Linked DNA regions of Homo sapiens: region 1 is linked to region 2. The links come from fine-mapping of genetic effects on gene expression. A gene starts in region 2. The other region holds a variant in brackets. All regions are shown on one strand. Distances are from middle to middle.

Evidence for each region.
Region 1: its variant is fine-mapped to the expression of PYGB in aorta (GTEx, PIP 0.92).

The regions. Positions count from the first base shown.
Region 1 is chr20:25,281,748-25,297,121 of GRCh38, reverse strand. PYGB (glycogen phosphorylase B) reads right to left here. Exons shown (of 20, transcript NM_002862.4): 12 at 14,975-15,089; 13 at 13,845-13,946; 14 at 12,871-13,018; 15 at 8,639-8,697; 16 at 6,500-6,641; 17 at 4,509-4,716; 18 at 2,830-2,964; 19 at 1,452-1,518; 20 at 1-752. The coding sequence ends at 600. It also overlaps a transcript of ABHD12 not described here. Among named protein-coding and RNA genes, the nearest start is that of PYGB, 41 kb to the right of the region's middle. RefSeq lists enhancers at 953-1,474, 2,520-3,042. The variant C/G (reference allele first, on the strand shown) is at 8,875.
Region 2 is chr20:25,240,044-25,255,417 of GRCh38, reverse strand. It overlaps PYGB (glycogen phosphorylase B), which reads right to left and starts at 7,333. Exons shown (of 20, transcript NM_002862.4): 1 at 6,997-7,333. The coding sequence starts at 7,239. LOC105372579 (a long non-coding RNA gene) reads left to right here and starts at 10,952. Exons shown (of 3, transcript XR_001754564.3): 1 at 10,952-15,374. RefSeq lists silencers at 6,690-7,069, 7,380-7,569, 7,580-7,769, 7,950-8,029, 8,048-8,301 and enhancers at 7,220-7,299, 12,982-13,599.

The DNA of each region.
Region 1 (15,374 bases), 42 kb before region 2:
TGGGTCCATGACCCATATACCAGGTGCAGAGCCAGGACAGAGGGCAGGGGGCAGGGGGCTGTGAAGGCGATGCCTAGAGGATCCGACCCCTCCCGGCATGGCCAGGAGGCAGGGCTGGGCAGGATGACTGGGGCTACATGGGGCTTGGCCCTTCCCTGTGGCTGGCAGCCCAGATGCTGCAGTAACACTCATTCCCAGGCTTCACTATGGCCACTGGCCCAGACCCCAGAATCCAGAGGCTCAACACTAAAGACATCGGCTAATACATAGCAAGATGTGTGCAAAGTTCTGGGGGAGCCCAGCAGGTGGCTCCACCTGACTCCCACTCTGGGTGGGGCAGGTGCTGAAGCTGCAGGGCTGGCCACGACCCTTTGTACTGTCAACTCTGGCTTCCTTTACAAGAAACTAGGAGCACTTCTAGCACATTCCTTCCTTACCCTGCTCTCTCAAAACCACCCTGACCCCCATGGCCCCTCCTGGAAACATGGTACTCAGAAAAGCAGGGACCACCAGTGGCTGGCAAAGTGTTTGGGGAAAAAAGGAGGTGCAAAGTCAGCAAGAAAACAAATGCCCGCTGGTCCCGCCAAGGCAGGGTGTGCCTAGTCCCGGGGGATGTTGGGGGGCGGGATCTGCAGGTCGGAGGGCTCCACACCCCAGATCTCCCGTGCATACTCCGTGATGGTCCGGTCACTGGAGAACTTGCCCGAGCAGGCGATGTTCCTGATGACCTTCTTGGTCCACTCCTTGGGGTTCTGCAGGGAAGGAGATGAAATTAGTCTCTGGCGTCACAGGGCTTGGGGCTGCTAAAAACATGGGATTCCAGAACTTTAGGACTGTTTCCAAATGAGCTCCGAGCCTTGGGGCCATCCGCTGGAAGAGGAGGACATTACAATCACTTGTTCGTTGAAAAGGGGACCCCACGGACCAGGAAAGCTACCGCATTCTAGATCTAGGGAGCAAGGAGCTGGAGAGAAGGTCCCAGCCTCGAAAATTCCTGCTAGGGCATGGCCCCCAGGACGACGATAGGGATAGCACCAGGTAAGAACTGCCCAGGCAGATCCAGTGCCAGGGGACATGCCCAGGCAGTCTCCTTCCACCAGGGAGCCTCACAGCTGCCACAAGCTGCAGGTCACACCAGGCCAGCCTTTCCTCGAGGCCAGCCCTGACTGAGGGAAGAGAAGGTCCCTCCCAGGGCCCTGCCCGTCACTCAGTTTCCAGGCCGCACATTCCTTTCTTGGCCATTAGGAGCTGTTTTTTTCAACGGAGGGAGTGACATTGACAGTGACAGCTTCCCTAAAGGCAGGCACAGCCGACTGATGACAGATCAGAATCACAAACCCCTCTGGCCCAGGCCAAGAATCTACTCAGCTTGGGAAATAAACAATCTGACCCAACACGTCTACATGGACCCACCCAGCTGCTCCCCTAGCCTCTGGACCCAGGAGCCTCACCCGGTACAGCTGGTCCACCTGTGCCTGGCACTGCATGTAGGCTTCATAGTCTGCAAACACCTTGAACCTGGAATGGGAGAAAGGAGGCTGGGCCAGGGCAGCAGGGAGCCCTGCCCACACTGTCCCGAGGGGAGAGTCCCAGGGCAGGAGGCCAGGCACCATCCACCTGGTCCTGTCTGGAGCGAAGGGGCCCACCCACGCAGCTGGTCAGAGCCAGGCTGCACCAGGCCCATTTGGCCACAGGGCTTCTCTGTGAGCAACACTTATGTCCTGGGACAATATTTTAGAAAAACCTTATTTCAACCCAACACTCCTTTAAATAAACTGGCATTTAAAACGTGTCTTCCACACGCAGGGCAGTTAGAGCTGCACATGGGAGAGGCCTCCTGGGCAGACAGTGGAGAGCCCATGGCGCCGCCTCAGGGCAGGGGGCACTTGCTGGGGAACGGCATCTCCATTTGCCGTCTTAAGTCTAACTGGGATTTGCCTACACAGGAAATACTGACTTGCAGTTCCTGATGTGCTGAACAAAAATGCCAGATTTATGAATCTACAAATGCATTTCTGTTCACTATCGAGTCAGAAGCACACTTCACGAAATGCAGAGTTCACAATTTTAAAAGCACTTCCTTTATCACAGACCTCAGCAGGGCCCAGGTTCCAGCCCAGATCCCAGCATGTGGTCAGAGCTGGTGTGACTGAAGCCAACAGGTGACACGGTCATCGAAGAGCAGCAGACAAAACTAAAACTAACCCAAAGGCAGCTGAAAGTGGAGGGCAGGTGAATTCCCAGCCCTCGCCGGATTCAACTTTTGCCAACGGTGAAGAACTGCCCTGAGCTGCAAACCTTACAAAGTCTGTAACTCTAGATAAACCATACCATGTGCTAACTGCACTGAAATAAAACACTAACTACATTATAATGTCACATCGTTGCAAGTGAAATCCATTTTCACCACTGCCTGTCACTGGCACTGACGCCTGCCGCGGTTCCGCAGCCCTTGTGCGCCCCCTACCCCACCCCAGGGAGTTTTGGGCCCATGCTCCCTCTACTGGCCTGCTGGGACACGGCTGCCCCTGGGACCTCCAACCAGCAGAGGACACCCCCTCCTGCTCAGCACATTGGTCCACAAGGCCTGGGGGCTGGACTGTGCTGCTGTGTCTCGCTGCCCAGGGCCCCCTGGCATTGCCAGAGGCCATCGCAAACTCCCAGCTGGGGTCTAAGGCTCTGCCCAGTAAGGTCTCATGGGCACAGTGGAGAAGACGTCCTGAAAGCACGGGTTTTGCTCTCCAAACAAGGTGGAATATCCAACCCACGAAGAGGACCCCTCCCTCCCTCCCTCCCTCCCAGCCACCCAACCAGGGAAGTCGGTCCCACCTGTCATGGTGCATCAGCATGTTCACGATGTCCTTGAAGCAGTCTGGCTCCTTGGGAGAAAAAAAGCCACTGCTGATCTGGTCCACGGCCTGCTTCAGCTCGGGCAGGTGGTCGTAGTACTCCCTGGCATTGTACCTGTGAGGCGATGGGCCAGGAGTCAGCAGCCAGCGCCCCAGGTGGGCCACCTTGGAGAACAAGCCATGTTGGTGCCTGGCACAGCCCCTGCCCCAGGATGGCCCTGGGAGCTCAAGGCCTGCACGGTCCAGGGCAGCAGCCAGTGGCCATGGGTGGTTACGAGGCCCTTGAGCAGGGACCTGCTCGAGCAGAGATGTGAAGTCAGTCTAAAGCCAATCCCACCTGCTCCTTTGACTGTTAAAGAAATGTCATCACTAGCAGATCTGCTAGGACATAGTGGCTGATGCCACATTCCTAGTGGAGAGGGCCACTCAGAACTTGGCTCACTGTGAAATCCTGGGCAGAGCTTTTGAAAAACAGACGGCCGGAGGGGCAGGAAGTGAAATGGAGCACCTTGGCTGGGACCTCGAAGATGGAAAAGGAAAAACGCAAGCAAGACCAGACAGGACAAGGCAGAGCTAAGTGGGAGAGGGACGGACGGGCAGACATGGGCATCCCAGGACGGGGCCCGGGCAGAAGAAGCTGTGTGAGGGCGCAGAAAGGGAGCACAGGCCTCTGTGCTCGGGCCAGCAAGGCACAGCTCTGACTTCAGATGGCATGTGTGGTTTCACCTGACCCTACTTAAGGCCTCACAGGCTCCCCAGTGCTTCAAGGCAATCAGGCAACACTGCCTTTTCTTTGTAATTATCGCTTGGAATCAGGCCCGTGCTGGATTCCTCATGACGTCCAGATCATGAAGAACAAGGAAAAACTGAGAAGCTGTCACAGACCAAATGACACTGGGGAGACCTGACGGCCACACACAGTGGAGTGCCCTGATGGGATCCTGGGATGGGAAAGACAGTAACAGAACCCCGGTGGAGTTGGAATGGAGTGTGGGCTGCAGGAGGGCCAGTGCTCTGAGCTCAGTGCAGCCAACGGAGGGGCGCGGGGATAAGGTGGATGAAGCTCTGGGTGCTGTCTTCAGGATTCCCTCCTCCCCTCTGCCACCCCCCAACCCCCCCATCCCCCCCACTCCCCCACCCCCCCCGACCCTGGCCTACACATTTAAAATGTTTCCAAAATACTATTTTTAAACAATTTTAACAGTTACAACTTAGACCAGGGAACCTCAACAGCAGGCAAGCCCCAAATCAGCAGAGTGCTCCCGGCAGAGCGCCCCTGGCAGTGGGGTCCTGCCCAGCCCCAGCCCATTTCTGTGGGGCTGCCTGTGCCCAGGGGGTGTCCCTCTAGGAGACCCTCCCCAGGGGAAAAGGCCTTTCCTGGAGGAGGAGCCCCTGGTCTGGACTCCGCAGATTCAGCCTCAGAGCCGAGACAGGAGCAGCCCAGCACCCCCACGTGGGCCTCGCCCGCAGCCCGGACCCCGTCCATTCCATGCACCTGGAAATGGTCACCCCTGCAGGCAGGCACACAGCCCTGGGTGGGCACTGACCCTAGCACACAGTGGCCTGGCCCCAAGAGCCCAGTCCAGCCAATGCCCCCAGCCCAACACCCTTCATTCTCCATCCTCACGGTGCCAGGTGCCCAGGGGCACAGGCTCGCACCCTTTCCGGTCCAAGGCCTCGACATCCTCCACCCGCAGGCCGAAGATGAAGAGGTTCTCGGCCCCGGCCTCCTCGGCCATCTCCACGTTGGCGCCGTCCATGGTGCCGATGGTGAGGGCCCCGTTGAGCATGAACTTCATGTTGCCTGTGCCTGAGGCCTCGGTGCCTGCAGTGGAGATCTGCTGCGACAGATCAGCGGCCGGGATCACTGTGGAGGGGAGCCCGTGGAGGGGATCACTGTGAGGACCCCAATGTCCTCAGCCGCAAGGCTCACTGCAGGACAAGCCGGCCCATCCACCCGGGGCTGGGTCGTGGAGGGACCAATGCTGTGGCCCCGCTCCAGCCCCCACTCCCGCTCCCACAGGGGCCCAGGCTGGACACGGCCACCCGCCTCTGCAGGGCTCCCCTTCGTGACTGGGGCATCCTTGAGGCAGAAGGTCCAAGATGGGGGCTCCTCAGGAGCCAGGTGGCATAGGATCTGTGCACCAAAACCTTCCCCAAAACCAGGCCTAGCCAAGGAGCCAGTCCTGGCTCGCTGACAATGTCGTTCCCTGGATCACCGCGACCTTGATCAGCCCCAGCGGCTCCCTGGATCCTTTCAGGAGGAATGTAGACCAGAATAGAGCCAGAAGGCTGGAGCGGCTGAGGGGTGGCGACCTCCTGGGCGCCAGCAGCTGCCAGATGCCACGGCCCTGCGCTTTCTCTGTGCCTGTCCCTCAGGACTGGTCACCGCTCCCAGACACGCTGTGAGTGCACACACTGACTATACAACCTGCTCTCCACCCTCACCTCAGGCTGCAGCCCAGTCAGCCACAGCAACACTGCCGGGGAGAACGGGGCCCTGACGCCAGCACCGAGACTCCAGACCAGGTGCCTGAAGGCCTGCTCTAAAGATGAGCAGGAGTCAGCTGGCCCCAAAACACATAGGAGGAGGGGAGCCTCAGGCAGCACGGGGGAGAGGAGATGCTTCGGTCAGAGGAGCAGGGAAGGACGAGCCACAGTTCCTGGCCAAGCCGGAGGCAAGCCGGCCCGTGAGTGCCTCAAGGGACCTCGCCTGCCAGGCACCACTAAAGAGGGGGAGCGACATGGACACCAAGGCAGCAGCCAGGCCACAGGGACGGTGCCCAGGGATCCCCCCCTGCACCACGGAGCTTGCAGAACAACAGCAGATCAGCCCTCTCACCTGCGGCAGCCTGGGAAGCCCAGGCGGCCTGAACTAGGGGGGGCCCTTGGCCCTCGGCGGCAGGAGGGGAGCACGAGAAGGCCAGGCTCAGATCTCCCACCATCTGGTGGGCAAATCACTTTCCTGCCCAGTAGAGCCCACAGGGGTGGGAACTGATGGGCTCCAGGGCACATGGCAGCACATCCCAGGGTCTCCCCAGGACTGGCCCAGGCTGCCCTCAGGAAGCACAGATGAGGCAGGTGCTGCCACCTGAGATCACTGGTGGGCCCAAGAGCAGGCAGGCAGTGAGGAGCAAGGATGTGGGCGGAGGAGGGGCAGTGGAGTTGGGGGAAGCTGGGGGCCCACAACCCCACTGGCCTGGTGCATGTCCTGCCAGCAGAGGGGCCCAGGGCAGAAGACACGGCTGAGGGGCAGGAGGAGAGGGCAGGGGAGGGAGGGTACAGAGGGCAGGCCAGGCAGGTCCTGCCAGCAGAGGGGCCCAGGGCAGAAGGCACGGCTGAGGGGCAGGAGGAGAGGGCAGGGGAGGGAGGATACAGAGGGCAGGCCAGGCAGGCGCGGCAGTAAGGGTGCCCTGTTGGGGGATGACACTGCCTGTGACATGCAAGGCGCCCCGGGACGCACTGTGAGTCCTCCGCACTGCACGGGGAGCACTCCCTAAAGCCGTTCCCTGCTCGCCTGCAGCCCGGCTGGCTAGGTCTGGGTGTCCAGGCAGAGCTGAACTGGCTGAGGATGAAAGGCCCGGGGCCAGTACAACGCCCGTTCCCCGGCAGGAGTGAGTTTTCTGTCCAACACAGGCTTCCAGGGTTACCTTTCTCAGCCAAGGACACACGGTAGTTCTCCAGGAAGATCACTTTCAACCTGTCACCCACAACTGGGTCATGATTGACGACGTCGCCGATGGAGGTGACCAACTTGATGATCAGCTTGGCCATGTGGTAACCGGGCGCTGCCTGGAAGGAGAGGGTGAAGGTTTTTAGCACAAAAATGCCTTGTTCAGGCCCTTGGAGGCGCTCCTGGTTCCTGGGGTCTGTAGGGGGGTGAGGCTAGAGCCACAGGAACCTGCCGTCGGGACGGTCAGTAGAGGAGCTAGGGAGGCTCCCCGGCCCCAAGGCCCCAGCTCTGCTGCGCACTCACGATGGTGGCCACCTCGCCACATCCAGAAACGTGTCCGCCTCAAGTCTGGTTTTCTGGTTGTTGTTAGGTTTTCAGAAATTACAAGGTAAAAGAGACCAGGATTTCTAGAGCTGCCGACTGACAGGAAACAGAGAACTGTCCCTAGGGACATACTGGGACACACTGGAGGGACACATTCGGAAAGAGCCAGGCTACGGCGGACAGACAACCCGATGTCTGTAACAGACAGACTGTGGGGAAAACCTACAGAGAACTGAGACACCACGGCCAGTCCAAGGTGAGGACTCACTGGGCCCTCACTCAGACCAACTTTTAGAAATGTCTGTTACTTTACAAAGACAACTGGGCAGGGGACCCATGAAGTACCCGAGTGAACATTTCAGGACACGGAGGACTCCTGTCCAATGCTTTAGGTGTGACGGATGGTGGTACTGTGTGGTGATGTTTCAGTCTACTCCCATTGTGGTTCTGGTGGAAAACATCATTTTATGAAAAGGAATGCTGACGTATGTAAGAGTGAAGAGCTAGAGTGTCTGCAGTTTACTGTGAAATGCTTCAGCTAGTCTGGGTGACAGGTTTATGGTTTTGCTACAATTCTTCCTGCTTTTCTCCAGGTTCAAATGTTTCCTTCTTTTTTTTTTCTTTTTTTTGCTGAGACAGGGTCTGGCTCTGCTGCCCACACTGGAGTGCAGTAGTGCAATCACAGCTCACTATAGCCTCAATCACCCAGGACAATCGATCCTCCTACTCAGCCTCCCAAGTAACTGGGACTACAGACATGAACCACCACGCCCAGCTAATTTTTGCACTTTTTTGTAGAGATGGGGTTTCACCACACTGCTCAGGCTGGTCTCGAACTCCTGGGCTCATGCGATCCACCCGCCTTGGCTCCCAAAGTGCTGGGATTACAGACGTGAGACACCGTGCCCAGCCTAAAATTTTCATAATAACATTTAAAACTTTTTCGAACTCCGTATCTCTATGGACTTTACATACTGAAATACTGACAAATAAAATGACACAATTCCAAAATTTGCTTCAAAAACAGCAGGTGACAGGAGTGGACAGAGACCAAATGGGGTGTGCCAGGAGGTGGCGGAGCCCAGAGGAGTGCCCACCCCTCTGACCAGCTTCCCACTCGCTGAAGGCAGCAAGAGGGCAGCCTTCAGGCTGCACACAGGCACCAGCACCCCCAGGCCCCGGCCTTGCCGTGGAGGGCTGGGGTGCCTCACACAGTCCAGACTCACTTAGGGCCACTGCTCCAGCAGGACCCTCCTAAGGACGCTGCACCCCACAGCAGCCTCACAGTTCTGGATAAAGACCAAGCTACTAGGGAAACATGGCAGGAGGTGGGGACACTGGCCGCAGAGGGCTGATGAGTGTGACGATGTGACCTGGGACTCGATGACAGCACATCTAGGACTCTGAAAGTATGTGTCATAGTAAATAAAGTGAACTGAAACCAGGCAATGCTCAGGGCATGTGCAGGTGATGAAGCAGCCACAACGCCCTGTGCCCACTGGGCACAAAGAGAAAGGACACTGCCCTCTCTGAGGTGGGCACCAGCAAGCCCACTGGGGACTGGCCCTCTAGGCTGGGGACCCCTCCAGTGAGCTGGGCAGGCAGGAGGCTTCCATCCCATTCTGACTCTCTACAGGGTCCCCACCCCCACAGGCATACCAGAGGGGCCGGTGACCGCTGGGCATCCGGTTCCCGAGTATGGATGTGGTGGCACCATGAGAAGCGTGCAGGCTGCCCACCCACTATCCCCAGACCAAACACCACAGAGAGGACTGCAGAGGAAGTCACTCACCTTGCCCCCAATCATAACAGTCCTGGGCACAAAAGCCTTGGCCGGGTCTCTCTTGATTCCTGCAGGACACACGGAAGAGACTCACACAAGGCACCGCGAGCCGGACGAGCCCCTGCTGGGGCCCAGCAGCATCAGAGGCCGACCCTGAGGCAGGACAGGCACGCTCCGCCATGTACTTCAAGCCCCAGAGACACGGGTGACAGTGGCACAGGGCCACTGGCCACCCACCTGCCCAC[C/G]CACCAGGAACCTGCCACTTACAAGGGAGTGAGGCCACCCTGAGGTCTGCACTTAGGTTCCCCGCTGGTGAGGAAGGCCAGCCAGGACCATGGACGAACCCAGCAGCTGACTCGAGCAAAGATGCTATTCCCCGGGGCTCAGAGGAAAAGCTGCACCTCAGTTTCCAGAAAAGCCCAACACAGGAGCCTCCTTGGGTCTGGTCACCAGTGTTCAAGGCCCCTGTACATGAAGGGCACACTTGTGGGTTTTGTTTGGTTTTGTTTCTTGAGACAGCAGCTCACTCTGTCGCCCAGGCTGGAGTGCGGTGGTGTAAGCGTAGCTCACTGCAGCCTCTACCTTCCAGGTTCAAGCAATCCTCCCACCTCAGCCTCCTGAGTAGCTGGGATCCTAGGCACGTGCCACTGCGCCCAGCTAATTTTTTAATTTTTTGTAGAGATGAGGGTTTCTCTACATTGCCCAGGCTGGTTTCAAACTCCCACGCTCAAGCAACCCTTCCGCCTCAGCCTCCCAAAGTGCAGGGATTATAGGCGTGAGCTACCGCGCCTCGCACTCTACCACTCTTGGGTTTTTTTTGTTGTTGTTTGTTTTTGTTTTTAAGAGTTAAGGTTTAGCTCTGCCACCCAGGCTGGAGTACTGTGGTGTAATCCGGGTTCACAGCAGCCACAGACTCCTGGACTCAAGTGATCTTCCCCTCCTTAGCCTCCCAAGTAGATGCGACTACAGGCACCGACAGGTTACCACATGCAGCTAATTTTTTCACTTTTAGTACAGATGGGGTTTCACTTTTTTGCCCAGACCAGTCTCAAACTCCTGGCATCAAACAGTCATCAGGCCTCAGCCTCCCAAATCACTGGGATTACAGGGGTGAGCCACCACACTGGCCTTAAATTGTGTTTTAAACACATTGTTTGGATGACACAAAGAAAAAGTGGCAACCTCAGCCTTGTGGCTGTGGTGCCATCAGCCTGCAGGGGCGCTGGGTGAGACCTTGTGTCTCCCCTCTGCCTCACTGGGACAGCGGGTGAGGGCCCCCAAAGTTCTTCACAGAAGTGGATGGAGGGTCAAGCCATGACGGCCGGCTCACTGCCAGCCCAGCAAACAGGCTGTCCTCGCCAGGTCATTTGTTTGCAGATTTCACGGGAGGTTCCTACAAAAAGGGGATGAGCGGCCACCCTGGACAGGCGTTCACCAGCGAGCCGGGCCTGGGTGAGGCAGCAGGGAGTCGGGCTGATGTGTACCACCCAGCCCCAGGCTCCAGGAGGAATGCAGCTGCCCCTTAAATGCTGGATCTTGTCACTTCTGGAAATCAGCAGAGAACAGGAAAAACGAAACACACAAGTGATGATTTCACCACAACTAGGAAAGAAGGAAACCATGCAAACCCCAGGTCACAGTGGGCAGGGGACAGGGTCATGGGAGTCCTAACCTCTGGGGAGGGGCACTCTGGGCAGAGAGCTCCAGTCCTGGGGGCCACCAAGGAGCCCCCGGGGAACAGCAGGTTTGGGCAAGCGCCTCTCCCACAAGGGCACCCTCACAAGGCAGGTCCTGGCCTCCAGAGGAGCCTCCCGCCCAGGTGAGACCCGGAGAGACAGCAGAGGCGCAGCCACAGGCTGGGGAAGCATGGCCTTGGCCCAGCAGAGGAGCTGCCTTGGAGGGCTGAGAAGCCTATTCCGAATAGCCCCAGGTGATCCAGCTCACACCAACGTAGCAATGGAAGTCAGCACCCAGCCCCGCCACAGGCCACAGGAGGGGAGTGAACCCCTTCGCAAATCACATACCCTTGGTGACCACCAACTTGGAAAGACATGGAGCCAAATGCCAAGTCCTCAGGGAGGGGGGCAGAGAGCAGAGGAGAGGAGCAGAGGGCACGGGAGGAGAGTGCAGCCGGCAGAGACTCCAGAGAGCAGTGCCACTCCACAGGACAAGGACAAACCAAGTCCTGAGAGAAGTAGGCACCAAGGAAGAAGGCCAGAGAAAGCCACCTCACGCCACACTGCAGCCCAGAAGCAGAAAACCAAACAGAACCAAACACACGTTTCAAACAGACAACTTCCCTGAAGTCCAGCAACACGTTCAACAAGCACCCGGAGTATTGGCGAAAATGCCCTGTAACGGCCAACACCAAGACACGGCAATGACAGTGAGTCACTGATGAGATCGAGAACTCAGACATCGCCAGACTTCTGCACACACACCCACCCTCCAGACAGTGCCCGGTAGGGCCCTAAAAAGCACTGGGGGAAGGAAGTGGAGTTAAGACTGGCATCTTCAGCCAAACCGACCTTCATGGTGAAGGGTCCAGGCCGTTTTGAACAAGCAAGAACTCGGGAAGGTTGTTCCCATGAGCCAGTCATGAACTAGACACAAAGTGGCCAGCAGGGCTGGGCAGCACTTTGCAGAAGGACCGTGAGAAGCAGTGAACATACTCACCACCAGACTCAAACTGATACAGCTGGGGACAGGAGGAAGGGCAAAGTATTGATGCTGTGAGCTCTGACAGTGGGGGAAGGAGACGCAGGTCCACCACAGGTACATGCACAGACACAAGCACACATGTTTACAGGCATGCACACATATACATTTATGCGTGCACACACAGACATGGAGCAAGGGGGAAGACCAGTGGGAGCGAGCACCAGCCTGTTGGCTGCCTCCTGTGAACGGCTGGAAATCACAGCGTGTCGTTCAAAACGAATGAACCAACCAAGCAGAAGTGGAGCATCTGGAAAGCCTGAAGGCCAACAATAGAAGACGATGCAACAACTGACGACTGGGGGTGGCGGAGCGGGAGGAGGAAAGCCTGAAGGCCAACACTAAAAGACGATGCAGCAACTGACTGTGGGGGTGGTGGAGCGGGAGGAAGGGAGGGGGTGACCCGCGAGTCTCACTGCCGCTCATCAATAGGACCAAGCGTTGTGCAAGCGGAGGACTCCGGGTCACCACCAGGGGAACACAGAGCATCACAACTGCAGGAGGAAAATGGGGCAAGGAAAGATGATGCAAAGTTCCCGTGCACCATCTCGGAGCCGGGAAGCCACAGCCCCGGGAAGCACCTCCCGTGGTGCCCACACGGCAGAGGGGTCCTCAGCGGGGGTGGCCTCTAGCCTCTGTCCTACCATGTGTGTCTCAAACGCACCCAGATCCTCCACCCCATCGAGGCTTACTCATTGGGAATAGGAGATCTATTCCCGGGAGGAGCTTTGTATCGGAAAGGAGGATGTGTGGTTCCTTTGGTTTTTAAAATACCTACTTTATTAAATTACAAAATTTTAGAAACCTAGTTTTTCCTTAAGGTTTCATTATCTATTAAACCTAGCAAATATTCACATTGACCTTTGGGGGTCTCTGTTTCATGTTTGTCTCATAATTAAATGTCCTTAGACATATAAGATGCATGTGTAAATTTAACACATACTATCTTAATTTTTGTAAGTATACTTTAAATGCCTCTAATAAGCATAATCTTTCTAAATAAGATTAGTCTCACAAAGATAATAACTAAATTTAAAATAAAAACTGAAGGCCCGGTACAGTGGCTCATGCCTATAACCCCAGCCTTTTGGGAGGCAGAAGTGGGTAGATCACTTGAGGCCAGGAGTTCGAGACCAGCCTTGGCAACATAGTGAAACCCTGTCTCTACAAAAAATACAAGGGCATAGTGGCGTGCGCCTGTAGTCCCAGCTACTTGGGGGACTGAGGTGGGAGGATTTCCTGGGCCCTTGGAGGTCAAGACTGCAGTGAGCCGTGATGGCACCACTGCACTCCAGCCTGGGCCTTTCGGGTGTCTAACTGTTCACCTGCTCACGTGAGGCCTGGCATGGGGCACACAGAAAAACATGGCTTTTGCTTAAAATAAACGTGCCACATCACACATGCACACGCCTATACACACACAGCCCCCACCATGACAGAGGCCCAGGGTCTGTGCACAGCTGGCGGGCAAGGGCAAGCCTTGGGCCCCACAGCGCGGTCATGCAGGTGATGCCGGCACTCACGATTGTACAGGGTGACGACGTGCAGGCAGTTGAGCAGCTGCCGCTTGTACTCGTGGATCCTCTTCACATGCACATCGAACATGGAGGAGGGGTTGATCTTCACCTTGTACTCCTTCTCCAGGAAGGCCGAGAACTTGAGCTTGTTCTCCTGGGAGGGTGAAAGGGAAAGATGGCTGGAGACTTCACCAGGACTCCATCCACTGACCCTGCGGCTTCCTGCTTCAAGTGCCCTGTGAAGAGTGCCGCAGGGAGGGGGCAGGGGTATACAGGCTGGAGCTGAGGGGCAGAGATTGCACCAGGGGTCTTCTCATGGGAAAAGGGGAGAGGGGGATGCTGAAGGTGGGTCCACACCAAGAGTAGGGGATAAGTGAGGAGCCGGCCCAGGAGCACGCCTGGAGCCAAGCAGAAGACACTGCAGAGCCAGGCGTGCAGGCGGCGGAGCAGCGCGGGAGCGGGACGGCTGAAAGGACTACAAGGAGAACTAGTTCTGGCCTCTATGAGGAGGCCAAGCTCGACAGGCTGTGTAGATGGGCCTCCAGCCCGCTGAGGTTTGAAGGCTGCCGTGACTGGCCCTGGTCTAGCCGAGAGGCTGCTGCCGGTGCAGACAGCTCGTGCACCTGCACAGCTCTCCAGGGGCAAAGAGGGTACCACGCTGGAATCGGCTTCTAGAGGCTTCCATACAGAACTGACCTGTGGCAGAGGGTCGAGGCACGGGCAGGGCTGGCCTGGGGTCTGCACTCACCTATCTGCCATGTGACCTGTCCTCCTCGGGGCCCTCATCTGAAAGGCTGAGTGGGGTGGAGAGACCTCAGGCAACCCTAACAGCCTCACCCTCAGTCCTGTTCTGAGTCCCCACTAAAGCCCCAGTGGGTACCCCAGGACCTGTGCTGGGCCTGTAGGAGGGCTAGGGCCAGGGCCTACCTGCCTGGTTGTGGGAGGGCTGGGGTCGGGGCTGGGGCCAGGGCCATGCCTACCTGTTTGACCTTGGCCACGTCCCTGATGAACACCTCGTCACTGACCAGCGGCAGCAGCTTCTTCAGCTGGCTCAGGTCAGTCAGGAACTCCTCCCCAATTTTCTGGAGAACGTAAAGGTTCCGCTCACTGTGGGCCTCAGCCTCCTGAGGCTGGGCCCCCTAGCCACCTGCCCTCCTCCCATTGTTGCCCACGCCCCTGCTTTCCCCTGGGATCTGCTTGTCCGGCCCCTCCGGGCATCCCACCTCTCAGGCCACAGGGTTACCCCAGCAGCCCCTCCTTCCTCTTCTGAGAGGGCTCTGCGAGATGGCCCAGTCCCACCAGTTCAAACGTCCACAGGAAACACACGACCCTCCCTCAGCCACCGATCCCAGGGTTCTCTGACATTGAACATCCCATCACCACCCAAAACCCAAAGCCATCCTCCCGCTGCCCTCCACCAGCACCTTCCCTGCCTGAAGCAGGCGGTCCCCTCAAAGCCAGCACCTCACCCAGGTGCTGCCTGCAAACACTCGGCCACCTCTCCTCACTGTACCCAGGCCCATCTCAGACTGCACAGGAGCCACGCTGCTTTCCAGGTCCCAGGGGCCCGTCCCCCAGCACAGGGCATTGAACCAGTTTGCCCCAGAGCACTGCTCACTCTCTCTTCATTCCCTCTTCAGACCTCAGCTTTCCTGGGAAGGCTTCCCTGACCATAGCCCCAGGTGGGCGGTCCCACCCTCCCAGCGGCTGGTCCTTGCCTGTAGCGCAGGGCCTGACACCTCAGCACTCATTTCCTCAGGGAGCTTGCATAGGAGCCAACATACAAACAGGAAATAGGTGCCCAGCCTAGCTGGCAGTCAGCTGCCTCTTGACTCTTTTGCAGTGGCCCCGTGGCTGCACTCAGCCACACCCCAGCCCTCCCTAAAGCTCGGCTTCTGAACTCGCACACAGGACCCGCCAGGCCCAATGGGTGACTGCCCAGCTCAGCGCCCATGTTCAGGGGCTCAGCCCTCATGTCCAGAAGCCTGCAGGTCAACACGTGAGGGACAGACTCCTGCCTACTCAGCAACCGCTCAGCAGGGGCTGATGACATGGCCCGCGGTTCTCAGCCCAGGCATCTCCACAGGCACGGGTGGGGCCCGGGACTCACCTCCACGATGGTATCGGCCAGCCCCGGGTTGCACAGCAGCAGCCACCGGCGGGGGGTGATGCCATTGGTCTTATTCTGGAACTTCTCTGGCTCCAGTTCATAAAAATCCTTAAAGCTGCAAACACAGAGAACAGGGAACTGTCACAAATGCTGTGCCCTGCACCAGGTGAGCAACAGACCTTAAAGTCCTTTTAAGGAGGTCCCAGGAGCCCTCAAGCTCAGTGGTTCTGTTCTGTTTTCTAAGGAGAACAGAGTGACCGCGGCAGCTGCAGGCTCTGGGAGCCATACGAAGGCAGCACCTGCACCCCGGGGCATCTGTGGCTGGCTGTGCGGTTTGCCCAACCACAACCTTGCAGGCATTAGAGCCTGGCCATTCTCCAGAGCGGTCCGTGCGGAAACA
Region 2 (15,374 bases):
GGGGCTCCCAGCCCCTCCAGACACAAAGGGGCCACCTCCCTGGGCTGGACCTGCTGGCTCCTGCTGGTGAGCTGAGCAGTCTCAGATACCATCCAGGGGAACCGAGGTCCTGTGGGAGGAGAGATGTTGAGGGGCCTCCCACCTGCCAGACGCTGAGGTTGGTCTTTGGTTTCCTTGACAGTGTCACAGTGTCCACTCCACTGTGTCTGAGGGGGCTTCTGGGGAGTTGCTCACAGAGCAATCTGATAATCCACTACTGTATCTGCTGTAAGGATGTGAGGATTAGCTAGCACATCTCTCAAGCTCCCAGCCTGTGATGTCACACGGTACTTTCTTAATGAATTAACTGCCAGGGAAACTTGGCTTCCCATGAACAGTGGGCAGGCTTCTCAACGTGGATCGTGGATTTCCTTCTCACTCCAGTACCTACGACTCAAACACAGGTCTGTTTGCTCAATTTTGAAAATGTCAAATGTAAAAGAATTATAGAACTTTAGAACTTATGGGGATCTTAAGAGATCACTTGGTTCTGTAGTAAACAAATTCCTTCTACACTCCATGACACACATTGCCACAAGTCACTGTCTCCCGCCTTCTATGCAATTAAGCTCCACAAAAAGTCTATTCAGTACTAATCCAGAGCCAGAAAGCGATGGGAGCCTTCTCCTTATCACTGACAGAGCCTAATCAACTTACACTAAGTGATCTGGACCGTGTCAAACTATATTTATACCTAGTGAGCTACCAGTCATCGTTTTTAAACACTACTTTAATCTTTCATTTTAACTGTTTGTAGGCCGAGAAATGCCACTTACCTATACCTAAAATTACATGTCATTCCTACTCAAGGTACTGTTGAAGACACTGTTAACCGAACTTCTCTTACTGTCCAATTACCTTTCTAAATCTGTGTTCACTTCTCTTCCCTTCACCGTATCCTAAGAATGCCATTCTGCATGGGTGAGAAAAAGCCAGCTCCTATCTCCTGCGGTTATTTGCTGCATGTCTTAGGATGCTTTGAATTTCCAAATGGCTTAAAGCTTTGATCCGTTTAATAATAATAATAATAAAAGATATAATCTGAAAAGACTTCTAAAGTTCTCCCAATTATTTATTTGTATTTTTTACAATTGTATTATTGCATTTTATTTGTATTTATTAAGCAGGACAGCTGGTGACACTGAAAAGATTTGCAGACAACAGCACTGTGTTGATTAAAATGTCCAGAGTTTAACTGCTCTACTGTGGGTGTGTAGGAGAGCTTCCCTGTTTTTCCGGAGTACTCACTGCCGTTTTTGGGGGTGAAGGGGCAACAAGGCTATGACTCAGTTTTTTTTTTTTTTTTTGAGACAGAGTCTCGCTCCGTTGCCCAGGCTGGAATGCAGTGGCGTGATCTCAGCTCACTGCAACCTGCTCCTCCCAGGTTCAAGCAATCCTCCTGCCTCAGTCCCCCAAGTACCTGGGACTACAGGCGCCCACCACCATGCCTGGCTAATTTTTGTATTTTTAGTAAAGAAGGGGTTTCACCTTGTTGGTCAGGCTGGTTCTTACTTTCAAATGATTCGGAGAAAAATGAACTTACAGCGACAAAATGACCTAACAAGTGTGTTGCAATGTTTAACATCTGGGGAATCCGGATGAAGCGTCAACAGGAATTACAAGAAATCTCTGTATTATTCTTGCAACTTTTTAAGGGTCTGAAATCACATAAAGTTTAAAAGGAAATATGGCTGAGATGTGGAGGTGAGGTCGGTTACCTTATTTTATTTTATTTTATTTTATTTTATTTTATTTAGGCAGAGTTGCCCAGGCTGGAGTGCAATGGCGCAGTCTTGGCTCCCTGGTTCAAGCAATTCTCCTGTCTCAGCCTCCCGAATAGCTGGGACTGCAGATGTCCACCACCACGCCCGGCTAATTTTTGTATTTTTAATAGAGACCAGGTTTCACCATATTGGTCAGGCTGGTCTCGAACTTTTGACCTCAGGTGATCCACCTGCCTCAGCCTCCCAAAGTGCTGGGATTACAGGTGTGAGTCACCACGCCCGGCCATATTTTATAAAGCCACCACGGCCCCTGTGGATTAGTCAGGGTTCTCCAGAGACACAGAACAGTAAGGTATGTGTAGAGAGAGACAGATTTAAGAAATTGGCTCAAGTGATTCTGAAGTGCAAGGCCACAACCTACAGAGTGGGGTGGGCCAGCAGGCTGGAGACCCAGGCAAGCTGCAGCTCTGGTGCAAGGTAGCTGGTGGCAGGGTTTGTTCTGCAAGGCCTTCCCCCATGGGAGGCTGTGAAACTGTGATGTAATGAGATATACTTATTTGTTCTTCCTGGCCTGTGCTCCTAACACCCTTGTAATTTCCTAAGTGATAAGAGCAATAAAAATGAAAGAAGTGTCTTTTGTTATTCATAACAAGTCCCTTTCAACCACGCCTGATGTGGTCACCAAAAGGTGACTTTTGGCAAGCCCCTCAGGGCAGAGGCTGGCTGCCAGGGGAACCAGCTCTAATTAGAGGGTTGGAAGTTTCAGGCCCACCCCTCCCGCCAGCCCCAACCTCCAGTGAAGGGAGAGGGGCTAAAGGCTGAGCTCATCACCAATGGCCAATAATCACACTAGGTAACTGCGGCCTCCATAAAATCCCCAACTGAAGGGGATGGAAGAGCTTCCTTCCAGTTCAGTGAATCCTGGAGGTGCTGGGACAGTGGCACCTGCAGAGGGAATGGAAGCCCCTGCACCCTCCCTCAGACCTGCCCTCTGCATATCTTCTATCTGGCTGTTCCTGGGTTGTATTCCTTGTAAGTAATTGGTAAACGCAAGTGAAGTGTTTCCCTGAGTTTCATGAGCCATTCTGGCAAATCATCAAACCTGAGGAGGCTGTCGGTCAGAGGTCAGAAGGGAGGTCCTGATGTGCAACTGACATCTGGGGTGGAGAAGTCTTGTGGGACTGAGCCTTTAGCCTGTGGGATCCGAGGCTACATCTAGGTAGACAGCATCAGAACGGAACTGAATTGTAAGATGCTCAGTCAGTGTGGGAAACACCACCCCCCGACCCCCCCAGAGGGACATCCACGTTACTATCTAGGCACAACAGCCAAGTTGACACATAAAACCAGCCACCACAGCCTGCAAGGGCAGAGGCCAGGCTGTCTTCTGCAGAAAATGAAGGCACACACTGTAGGCTTCTCCATCTGCTAAAATGACAGCTGAGGCCTACCTTCCAAGTGGCTAGCTGTCAGCAACACAAAACAGCACCCACCATCAGCTACTGGTCAGAGAAAATGACTTTGAGCGATCTGCTGTCAGGGAAGCCTGCCCAGGAGATGCAAGCTCAACTTCACACATAAAAGTGGAAATACATCAGAAAAATTGGGAGTGTTAGGATTCCGGAGGCTGGTACCACAACTGACTAATTAAAACAAATCCCAGAAGTGGGGATCACAGAGCAGAAGGGTCTGCAAAACACTTCTCTAGATCATCTTCTTTAACTCCTGGGTCCAGCCAAACCAAAAGATTAATCGTATTTCATTGTGTTTATCTCATTAGGAATATTTAGGACAGCAGTGTGGGCCCCAAGGTAGAGCTGCTTTTCCTTAATCTGTGTTGTAGTCATGCCAGGAGCTTATGGGAAGAGTCTCAAAAACTGATTGTTACATCCACTGCAGGGGTGCTGCAGGTCAGTGGCTCAGCACATCGACAACACAGCTTCACAAAGGCCCACAGAATAAACCGTGCAACTGTCCTTTCAGGATGTTATAGAAGGGATCCCGTGACTCTCATAACTGGGCATGGGCTGCTTTCACTGCCAGGATCCTGGTCTGTGTTTTGTGTCCTGACCCTCACTGTCCCACCCCAACCCTCACTCTGAGGCCTTCTAATGTGAACCTTTTGTGCTGTATCTAGCATAAGCATCCTCAAATTCTCTCTGGATAGAGATGGAATGTCAATTCAATATGAAATAGAAACATTTTAACTCTAACATTTCAGAATGGCAACAGACTTCGGAAACATCACCAGCTTGATTCCCCTCATTTTAAAGATGAGAAAACTGAGGCCAATAATGGCAAAGAAATCCGCCCAAGCCCACAGTTGCACAGACCGAATGGAAAGGCCAGGATGAAAAGGAGCGTGGAATCACGCACACCCTTTCTTCTCCATGCAGCGCAATCCCAGGCTCTGCAGCTTCAGGTTGGACTCTCCTTGCCACCTTGCCACCACTTCAGAGAATCCATTAAATGTCTTCATGACCAACCGCCACCTCTTGCCAAGCACAAAGCTCTCCATGTTAGCCAGATGTTTTGACGTGCTGATTTGCCAAGCATGGCAAAGCTTGACAAATCTTCCTCTGAACACCCCAACTTCTACTCTTTCGCTATGTACCACAAATAAAGTGCTAAGAGTTATGAAACAATAGGTTCAGTATAATGTTATTTTATGTATTAAAAACAAGTTTCTGCCAATACGGAAAAAACAATGTAGAACACAAAATATTTACAGCACAAAGTGGGCGATAGAAGTGGGTTACAGGATTACAGTTAATTTTTTTCCTTCTGGCTTATCTATATTTTCTAATTTTTCCTCCAGTAATAATTTTTCCTTCAGGACTTGCATAATTTAAAAAAAGACAAAAATAACAATAAAAGCGTTCTATTTAGGAGCTCTAGAGTGTCACATTACCACAGTCTGCAGTGTGCCGGTGAATGTCTGAGGTCATTTCTGGCTGAGGGGGAGGCACAGCAGTTATTTTCTTGGGAGCACACCTCCTCTCATTGGCTCTGGTGGGACTGGTTGCTGGTCCATCACCAGCAAGCATGTAACTTTTCCAAAGAAAGGATTGCAAGCTTATTTTCATCATGAATTAGCGAAAGAAGCAGTTAAATCCCAATTTTCCATGTCCTTCCTATTCAGAATAGGCACACAGCTTATTTACACACTGTGAGATCTAAAAGTTTACAACTTTACGACTTACAGACTGTGCGGTTTAAGAGAAAGGTTTCCACCCAGAGCCACCACACGTAGACAATCAAAAGAGATCTCACGGAGGATCAAAAAACCTGTTTTGTTGCAGGGACTATCTTGTTCATGAAGGTCATTTCCGTAATCCCTGAGCCCATCGCTGGCCTCTCCAGGATGTGATTATACATAAATACTCCAATGGGCACCCTAAGGTGTAGAGCTGAGTCCTGGTCCAGCTCCAAGGAAATGCCCTTGAATGTGAAGGCAGAGCTATGTCCTTGCCATCCGCCACTTAGACAATAAAAATGATGTTGCGGGTCGGGTGCGTTGGCTCACGCCTGTAACTCCTGCACTTTGGGAGGCCGAGGCGGGCGGATCACGAGGTCAGGAGTTTGAGACCAGCCTGGCCAACATGGTGAAACCCCGTCTCTACTAAAGATACAAAAAATTAGCCGGGCGTGGTGGTAGGCGCCTGTAATCCCAGCTACTTGGGAGGCTAAGGCAGGAGAATTGCTTGAACCCGGGAGGCGGAGGTTGCACTGAGCCGAGATCGCGCCACTGCACTCTAGCTTCACGCTACAGGGCAAGACTCAGAATTAAAAAAAAAAAAAAAATGGTGCTGTGCATCAGAACTCTCCCAACAGCAGGGAATTCTGGGGGAGCCACTGCTTCTTGGCTGCTTTTCCTGGCAAAGTCATCCCAAGCCCTTGTTATAACCTGTTTTGGCCATTCGTTGCCACTTCTATGTTTTGCATACCAAATATGAAGAGCCCCAGTTGGTATTCTAACAAATCTGTCCCTTTTACCATCTCCATTTTAGAAAAAAGAATGTCCCAGAATAAGTTTGGAAAAGCAGTCAATCTCTTAGCAATTACCGTATTAAACATATCTTAATGCCCTACAAAAATATTCTAAAATACCATCCATAAAGCAAGTGCTCACTGCCTAGATGTACACTGCAAGTAAAATCTTTGCCAAGTGGCTTCAGGTCTGGAAGTGTGTCTTTTCCTCACCAGTTCTCCCTCTACGTTAGTGTAGTAGAAAGACAATTCTCCATGGTCAAGAGTTTAAAAGCAAACGACAACAACAAAAAACTGGCAACAGGGGGCTGTGCAAGACTACCATGTACCTATCAAACTGAAAACTACCATCCTATCCATTGACCTGCAAAGCTGTTTATCAGTGAAAAAGTTACAAATGTTTACGAATGAAACAGAAAATCTAAAAAACTGTATGTGCATTATACTTTTTAAAAATGTGTATGTATATTTAGGAATACCAAAAACACAGCAAGAACACAGGCCCATAGTAAACATGGTTAAGAGTAACGGGGACAATCAGTGACTTTGTTTCACTACTCAAACAAATTTTTGCAAGATATAAAAAGTAACAATTAGTAAGATGATCTCTGTCAACTTCAACCCAAGCAAATTTCTCCAAGGGAGGTGTGGGAACCTCTAAGACAGAGCCTTCTTCGAGGGCTCCATCTCCATCTCTGAGCTTCGTACCCCTCCCTGCGTGAAGCAGGCATCTTCAGTGATTTTCTTCTAAGCAGCGTACACAAAAAAAAGTCTCACAATTCCCTGCAGATTACCGAGCTCACCCCATTCCAACCCACAAGGCTGCCCAGGCCTGGTTCCAGTCCCATTTTCTCCCACAGGCTGCTGCAGGAAAACAAAGAGTGGCTGGAGGCAGGGGCGGGGAGCACCGGCTCTGCAGCCAGCGCGGAAGCGCACGGCCAGAAAGAGACCGGGAACGTCCGCCAGGCTCCCGGGCTCAGCATCATCTGCGGGGGACGGCGGACCCCGCCAGGCGCGGGCTCCCAGTGGGGCGGACCCGTGGCCGCGGCCCTGCGCAGGGGACGCCCGGGCCCCGCCGACTGCGGCTTCCAGGCGACTCCCCAGTCGGCTGTGCCTGGCCGCCGGCCGGCTAGGGGCGCAGGTAACGCCCGACGGGCCGCCCCGCAGAGACCCCCGCTGGCGCGGCTCCGGGACCGGCGCCCTCTCAGCGGGCACGGGCGCACAGGGCGGGGCAGCGCCTCACCTTGGGGTCGCGCTCGTAGTAGTGCTGCTGCGTGCGGATCCAGCGGCCCACGAGGTGGTCGCGCACCGTGTGCGCCAGCGCGAAGAAGTAGTCGCGGGGCGTGGCCACATTGCGGTCCTTGACCAGCGTGAAGTGCAAGTGCCGGTTGAAGCTCTTCCGCACCTCGGCCACGTCGCCTAGCCCCGCCAGGCCGCGCACGCTGATCTGCTTCCGCTTCTCGCTGTCCGTCAGCGGCTTCGCCATCGCGCCGGCGGAGGCGGAGGAAAAGAGATGGAGGAGGAAAGCGGCGGCACACGCGAACGCCGGGATGGTGCAGCTGCTCTGGCGCCGCTGCTCTGGCGCCCGGCACTGCGGCTCTGCGGGCGGGATGGACCGCGCCTGCGCGCCGCGCCGGGGCGGGGCCTCGGGGGGCGGGGCGGGGCCTCGGGAGGGCGGGGCGGGCGTCCAGGCTCATAGCTGAGATCTCTGGTGTAGTCCGAGGCGGCAGCGACCTGTCCACGCCACCTGAGCGTGGTGTTTGCCCCCTCGTTGGGCAAGCCCGGCAGAAAGTGGGAGCGACTGGAGGGGGCAAGGGACCCGGGGCCTCGGAGCGTGCCGTCGTGGCCGCTCCTGCCAGCCCGGGGACGGTGCGGGAAGGGGGCCCTGCCCTCCGGCCCTCGGGTTCCTGGGACCGGCCCTCCCGCCCTGCACCGGGTCACCAGGTGCCCCGCGGGAGCGCGCTGGGCTCGGGCTGTGGCCGAGACCTGGTACACGTTCGGGGAAACTGATTACAGCTTGAAAGGCATCCACCAACGCCTGCTGGGCCCGGTCTTCTCTGTCCGGGGCAGGGCGGCTCTGAAAATACCAGCTATTTGCTTGCCACTCCAGGCCGATGACAGACGTGGAGAAAACCAGCTGCCAGCGAGCTGGAGACGCCCGTTCCCGAGGGCGCGAGGCAGCCACAGCCAAATGCCACCACGACCCCGCCTCGGAGGGACCGCAGCCCCCTAGCCCTCGGAGAAACCCTGTTCCCGAAACCACCTGGCAGACGCTGTCCGCTTTGAGATTACAGCAGGGAGAAGGAAACATGCCCGTCTGGCCGGGGAGCTCAGCCACTAACCGAGACTTAGCCTCTGTCATCCCAATCCAGGCTGCAGCTCCAGATAGGGGGCGTCTGCACACAGCTTCCCACACTTGGCCCCGCGGAACACAGTCCTGCTGGCCTCAGCCTGTGGGAACCCTGCTTCATGTAAAGGTCACCTAAACTCTGCCTTCCCTCAACCCCTTCAAACTCTGCCTTTCCCTTCGTTCTTGGGAGGCGCTCCCTCATTGCAGTGGGTCAGTACACCCGATTTTGTGGACCACAGGTTTGCTCCTGGTGGTCTTGGGCTGAAGGGGCTGCAAAGGTTACTGAATTTCGTGGAGGTAAAAATTGCCCGCAGGAAATGTCATGAAAGTCCAGGTGCAGTAGGTTTCCTGGTGTGATGCTTCAAAGTTATCTTCTTACCTGGAGCCCCTTCCAGCTGCAGACTTCAGAGGTCGGAGGTTAATCAATCTGGAATGACCCCACAGCCCACCCAGCTCCAGCTCGGGATTCACTCCTGCACTATGTCCTAGGGATTCTGGAGCCAACAAGATCGAACTTCGGGCACAGATGGCAGGGCTGTGGGGTCGAGCTTGGCTGCAAGCTCCGAACACTGATGCAATCTCTCTGAGGGTGATCTGGCAATTCAGAAGTCATAAAAATGATAGTGCCCTATGACCACTTCTACCACTCTGGGGAATTGAGTTCAAGGAAAGCTTAAGAAGACAAAAAGCAAGTTATGCAAATATGTTATCTGCTGTGGTGTGGTAAAGTTTAATCCCCCAGCTGTGGTGCACACCTGGCAAAGAATGGAGGCGCTGACACTTATTGATCATTACTTGCAGTGTACACGTATTAACTCCTGATCCCTGCAAATAGCCTGCTATTACCCCCGCTTGACAATGGAGAAGGTGAGCCACAGAGAAGTTAACTCTTCCCTAAGCCCACACAGCTAATAAGGGAAACAGCCAAGGTTCACCCCAGCCAAGCCCTGCTCCACTGCACAAGCCCAGAAAAATGTATCTGTGCTCAAAGTTAATATCATAAACCATTGTGCTGCTAAAAGGAATGACTGTTTTAATAGCTAGCTAGGAAGGTGTGATTGATGACACAATACTGATAAATGAAACACAAAAATAAGGATGTAATGCAGAAATGACAGTAATGATTTGAATATTACTTTCATTTAGTCAATTTAAATTTAAATTAAATAACCACATGTGGCTAGGGACTACTGTGTTAGAAACACAGGTGTATATCCAAACCTAAACACTGGTTATTTCTGAATGGAAGAATTATCAGGGGGGTTATCTTATTTTCTCCATACATTTTGTATTTCCTGTTTTTTCCACAATATTTCTTTTGTAAGTGGAGTAAGTTTTAGTAAGAAAAACTAGAGGCCACAGACTTCACTAATGGATGCTGATTTAAGGCCTATATATTCTCTTACTGGATTGACTTTTAATTCTTTGTTACTCTGGTTAAATAAATTTTAAGTCCTTTCTTTCATAGCTACACTTTATTAAATTTTCCATGATCCTGACAAAAATTCTTTGACCAAACTCTAGTCAGGCTTCTGAGCCTTGTAGGGCCATCATACACTTCCCTGTGACATCTGTTTTAGCAATCCCTGCTTTGTCAATTTAGCAGGATTCCCTGCCCCTGATGTCTGATCCCCCTTGGTGACATCTGATCAGGCTCCCCATGCTCCACCATCCCCCATGCTGTCCAATCACCCTGGCCTGCCTTCAACAGGAATCCTATGAGGTGGTTTAGACACAATCACCTGGACCCCTGAAGTGTCCTCTTAGTAACTGTCCATCCACTGACCCCTCCCCCAGTCCTTGGCTATAAATGCCCACTTGCCCATGCTGTTTTCGGAGTTGAGCCCAATCTCTCTCCCCTGCTGCAAGATCCCGTTGCAGTGGTCCCTGTACCTATCATGATGGTTGTGAATAAAGTCTGGTACCATGCTTTAACAAATGCTATTGATTATTTTTTTTCTTTAACAGTTATCTTACCCAGATGTCATTTCCTCTTCCTGGGAGCTGCCATGGTCCTTCCCCTCTCCTGCAGCACTTAGTCCAATACTGAATCTTCATGATGTGACTCTTCATAATGCGCATGGTTGACGCAGGAAGGAGCCCTCTCACCATCATGTCTCCTCACCTCCTCTGGCCGCTAATATTGCTGAAGTGGCTAAATGAGTCCCAGTATTAATTATCTCAGCCATTTTCAGGTAATTTATTTATTTATTTATTATTAATGTTTTTGAGATGGAGTCTTGCTCTGTCACCCAGGCTGGAGTGCAGTGGTGCAATCTCCGCTCACTGCAACCTCCGCCTCCTGGGTTCAAGCAATTCTCCTGCCTCAGCCTCCCATGTAGCTGGGATTATAGGCACTCACTACCATGCCCAGCTAATTTTTGTATTTTTAGTGGAGACAGGATTTCACCATGTTTCTGGGCTGGTCTTTAACTCCTGACCTCAGGTGATCCGCCCGCCTCAGCCCCCCAAAGTGCTGGGATTACAGGCGTAAGCCACCGCACCTGGCCATCATTTTCAAATAAATAATTTTTAGATAGTTTTAAGTGTTGTAAAGAAAAGCAGGTTGAGCTGTTAGTTACAGGAGGTGATATCTCAGCTGAGACTAAAAAAAAAAAATGAAAGAATGGACCAGGTGCAGTGGCTCACACCTGTAATCTCAGCACTTTGGGAGGCCAGGGTGGGTGGATCACTTGAAGTCACGAGTTCAAGACCGGCCTGGCCAACATGATGAAACCCCGTCTCTACCAAAAATACAAAAGTTAGCTGGGCGTGGTGGCGCATGCCTGTAATCCCAGCACTTGGGAGTCTGAGGTATGAGAATCGCTTGAACCCGGAGGTGGAGGTTGCAGTGAGCCGAGATTGCAGTCTGGGCGACAGGGCAAGACTCCATCTAAAAAAAAAAAAAGGCATGAATGAATCTGGGGGAATAGCAAATGCAAAGGTCCTGAGGTGGGCATCCACTTGGACAGTTCACAAAAGAGGCATCTGAGGGGCATTGGGATACACCACCCCAAAATATGCCTCTTCGCATGTGGATTATTTTGAATTAAAGGCCATTAAGAACCAGCAGACCACAGGAAAGGCTCTAAAAACCATTTTCATTTTGTAAAAAAAATTCACATTTATTATAAAGGAAATTTCCACGTCTCCCTCTTCCATGCAAGGAAGAGGATATCTTGTAACAACTCTTATCAGTGGAAGAAAGTACTGACTTAAGTCTGCATAACAAACCTTCCTAAACAACCCTTGTTTACCATACTTTTCCTGGGCACCTTCTGCTGAGGTTTGAATATACCCTCCAAAACTCATGTTGAAATTTAATTGCCATTGTATAAGAGGTAGGACTGTTCAGAGGTGATTAGGCCATGAGGCCTCCACCCTCAAGGATAGATTAATGCCATTGTGGGAGTGGGTTGTTATAAAAATGAGTTTGACCCTCTCTTGTTCTGTCTCTTTCACCCTCTCTTGTACTTCCACCCTCCTTCCATGGGACAATGTAGCATAAAGGCCCTCACCAGATGCCAATGCCATGCTCTTGGACTTCCCAGTCTTCAGAACCATGAGCCAGATAAGCCACTTTTCTTTATAAATTACACAGTCTGTGGCATTCTGTTACAGCAGCACAAATAGACCAAGACACCTTCCCACTACATGCCTCCCCTGCCCAGAAGCTCCAGGCCTTTTCCTTTATGTCAGCCTAAGATGATAGATGAACCCAAGTCCTGACCACACTTTGGGTTATTCATTGCCAGGTACTGCCACATGTAAGTGCAATGCACATGCCAATAAACTTGTTTTTTTCTTGCCTGATTGAATTGTCTTTGGCTGGTGTAATTAGAGGCCCCCTAGCTGGAGACCCTAACATGGGCTGGGGAAAAGATTTTTTTCCTTCTGTAAATAACCAAGAGTTGGATTCAGCTTCATCTTCCATTTTAGCAACAAAACTGCCAGGCTTCAGAACAGGCAAAATGGAAAGAAATTGGGCTATGCTTTTATTTTATATAAAGCTGAAAAGCAGTTTTGCCCTTCTAAGAGAAAGGATTGTTCTGGCAGCCTGGATCAGAGCAGTGATCAGGCCAGAGCATCTGCTAACCTCAGCATCAGGGAATCCCTGTTTTAGACTGTCCTCTACGTCTCTGTCTTCTCCTTTTGGGAGGTAATTTTTAAAAAATCACTAAGAAGGGATGGATGCTGGTTCTGGTTTCGTTACTGTTGTAGGGAGCTATTCTGTGTTGCTGGAGATAATACATTACCTTTAAAGTTCTTTTATCTTTTTGTTTTTGAGACAGGGTTTCATGGTGTTGCCCAGGCTGGAATGCCATGGTGTGATCACGGCTCACTGCAGCCTCGATCTCCCAGGCTCAGGTTATCCTCCCACCCCAGCCTCCCAAGTAGTTGGAACTACAGGTGCATGCCACCACGCCCAGCTAATTTTTGTATTTATTATAGAGATGAGCTTTCTCTATGTTGCCTAGGCTGGTCTTGAACTCATAGGCTCAAGCCATCCACCCAACTCGGTCTCCCTAAAGTGTTGGGATTACAGGCATGAGCCACTGTGCCCAGCCTGAAGTTCTTTAAATAGGTATTTAAGATTCTGTCTGTAGCAAGTCCCCTGTCATCTGCCTCAGAAAAAGAGATGAAAGATGTCTTGTGAATGGAAGAAGATGCTGTGGGACTTAGAAGCGGGGTGTGGAAAACAGACATTTTTGGTCGGCTAGGCTTAAGCTTCTTGAGGACCTGAAGAGTGTCTCATTGATCGCTGGTGAAATGAGTGACTCAGAAGCACCGCCGGCCCTTGAGACCGCAGGTGCGGAGGGAAAATCTCTCTGGGATCCCAGCAACGCCACTGGCAGATCTGTGCTGGTCAATTTCGTGTTTGCAAATGAACACAGACCCAGGCTTTCAGGAAACAGAGATAAATAACAAATGCATTATTTTTGAGAGGCTGGTAATTATAAAGCTCGAGGGAATAAAGAGCCCACCAGCTGGAATGACACTGTGGAACTGATGCCCTCCCTCCACTGGGGTGTGTCAACAGATATTCTTAGTGACATTAATGATTTTAACACACTGACATTAAAGGAAAAAGAATCTATTGAAGGGCTGGGTTGCCCCTCCACACCTGTGGGTATTTCTCGTTAGGTGGAACGAGAGACTTGGAAAAGAAAAAGACACAGAGACAAAGTATAGAGAAAGAAATAAGGGGGCCCAGGGGACCAGCGTTCAGCATATGGAGGATCCTGCCAGCCTCTGAGTTCCCTTAGTATTTATTGATCATTATTGGGTGTTTCTCGGAGAGGGGGATGTGGCAGGGTCACAGGATAATAGTGGAGAGAAGGTCAGCAGATAAACACATGAACAAAGGTCTCTGCATCATAGACAAGGTAAAGAATTAAGTGCTGTGCTTTAGATATGCATACACATAAACATCTCAATGTCTTACAGAGCAGTATTGTTGCCCGCATGTCCCACCTCCAGCCCTAAGGCAGTTTACCCCATCTCAGTAGATGGAACATACAATCGGGTTTTATACCGAGACATTCCATTGCCCAGGGAGGGGCAGGAGACAGATGCCTTCCTCTTGTCTCAACTGCAAAGAAGCATTCCTTCCTCTTTTACTAATCCTCCTCAGCACAGACCCTTTATGGGCGTCGGGCTGGGGGACGGTCAGGTCTTTCCCTTCCCACGAGGCCATATTTCAGACTATCACATGGGGAGAAACTTTGGACAATACCTGACTTTCCTAGGTGGACGTCCCTGCGGCGGCCTTCCGCAGTGTTTGTGTCCCTGGGTACTTGAGATTAGGGAGTGGTGATGACTCTTAATGAGCATGCTGCCTTCAAGCATCTGTTTAACAAAGCACATCTTACACAGCCCTTAATCCATTTAACCCTGAGTTGACACAGCACATGTTTCAGAGAGCATAGGGTTGGGGGTAAGGTTATAGATTAACAGCATCTCAAGGCAGAAGAATTTTTCTTAGTACAGAACAAAATGGAGTCTCCTATGTCTACTTCTTTCTACACAGACACAGTAACAATCTGATCTCTCTTTCTTTTCCCCACAATCTATGAGACCAGAGTGATACTGAGAAGAAATGAAATGGAGATAGGGAAGAAGGAAGCCGCTCCTCTCTACAGGATGCCAAATCAATGCAGGAGGAGATTCTGAGAACTACTGGACAACGGCCACAGGGGAACAGGGGATTCATTCCATCTCAAAGCCTCACCCTACACATTATCTTTATTAGCTATAAAAGGGAAAAGGGATTTGCAATGGAGAGTTATGGCAGACTCCAGCCTCATGAAGTGACACAACTTAGCATTGCCACCCAGGGGACAAACCCACACTATGAGTCTGATTCAGTGCACCAAGAAGGACAAACATCACTTACTCTGCTATAACATAACGCAGTATATTATACACTAACATATGTAGTATATTACATTACATAATAACATAGTACAGGCTTCTAGGACACAGTTTATAGAAGTGCAGATAATACTTGAGGCAGTTTCCCAAACTTGCAAATAAAAACTCTCCACAGGGCTTGTGACTAGCACATTCCCAAAGCCCCAAACCCAGAATTCCACCTGCTTAGTGAGCACCTCCAGAGCACTTTTTTTTTTTTTTTTTTTTGAGACGGAGTTTTGCTCTTGTTGCCCAGGCTGGAGTGCAATGGCAGGATCTCGGCTCACTGCAACCTCCACCTCCCAGGTTCAAGCGATTCTCGTGCCTCAGCCTCCTGAGCAGCTGGGATTACAGGCACCCACCTAATTTTTGTATTTTTAGTAGAGATGGAGTTTCACCATGTTGGTCAGGCTGGTCTTGAACTCCCAACCTCAGGTGATCCACCCACCTTGGCCTCCCAAAGTGCTAGGATTACAGGCACGAGCCACTGCGCTCGGCCATCTCTAGGGCATATTTTTACTGTGCAATGTGGGAATCTCTGCCATAGGGTGGGCTGCCTTTCTAACCCAGTGGCCCGGTTCTAGCAGGACTTCCCCAGTATGTGGATGGGGGCACAGGGACTCTTGGGGGGGCCTCAAGGCATCTGTGAGCTAGGCCTAACCACCGCTACTGAATGACTGCGAGATGAGTCCCAGAGCTGGGACGAGAGTGGGCCTGGTACCCTGCCCCAGCCCTCCCCTGACAGGAGTTAGTAAGGGACAGGTTAGCATGCTAAAGAGATAGCAAGCTGGTCACAGCCTAGGGCCACCACCCTTCTGTCTTACAAGTCAGAAACATGTCCTGACTTTGGGGGAGAG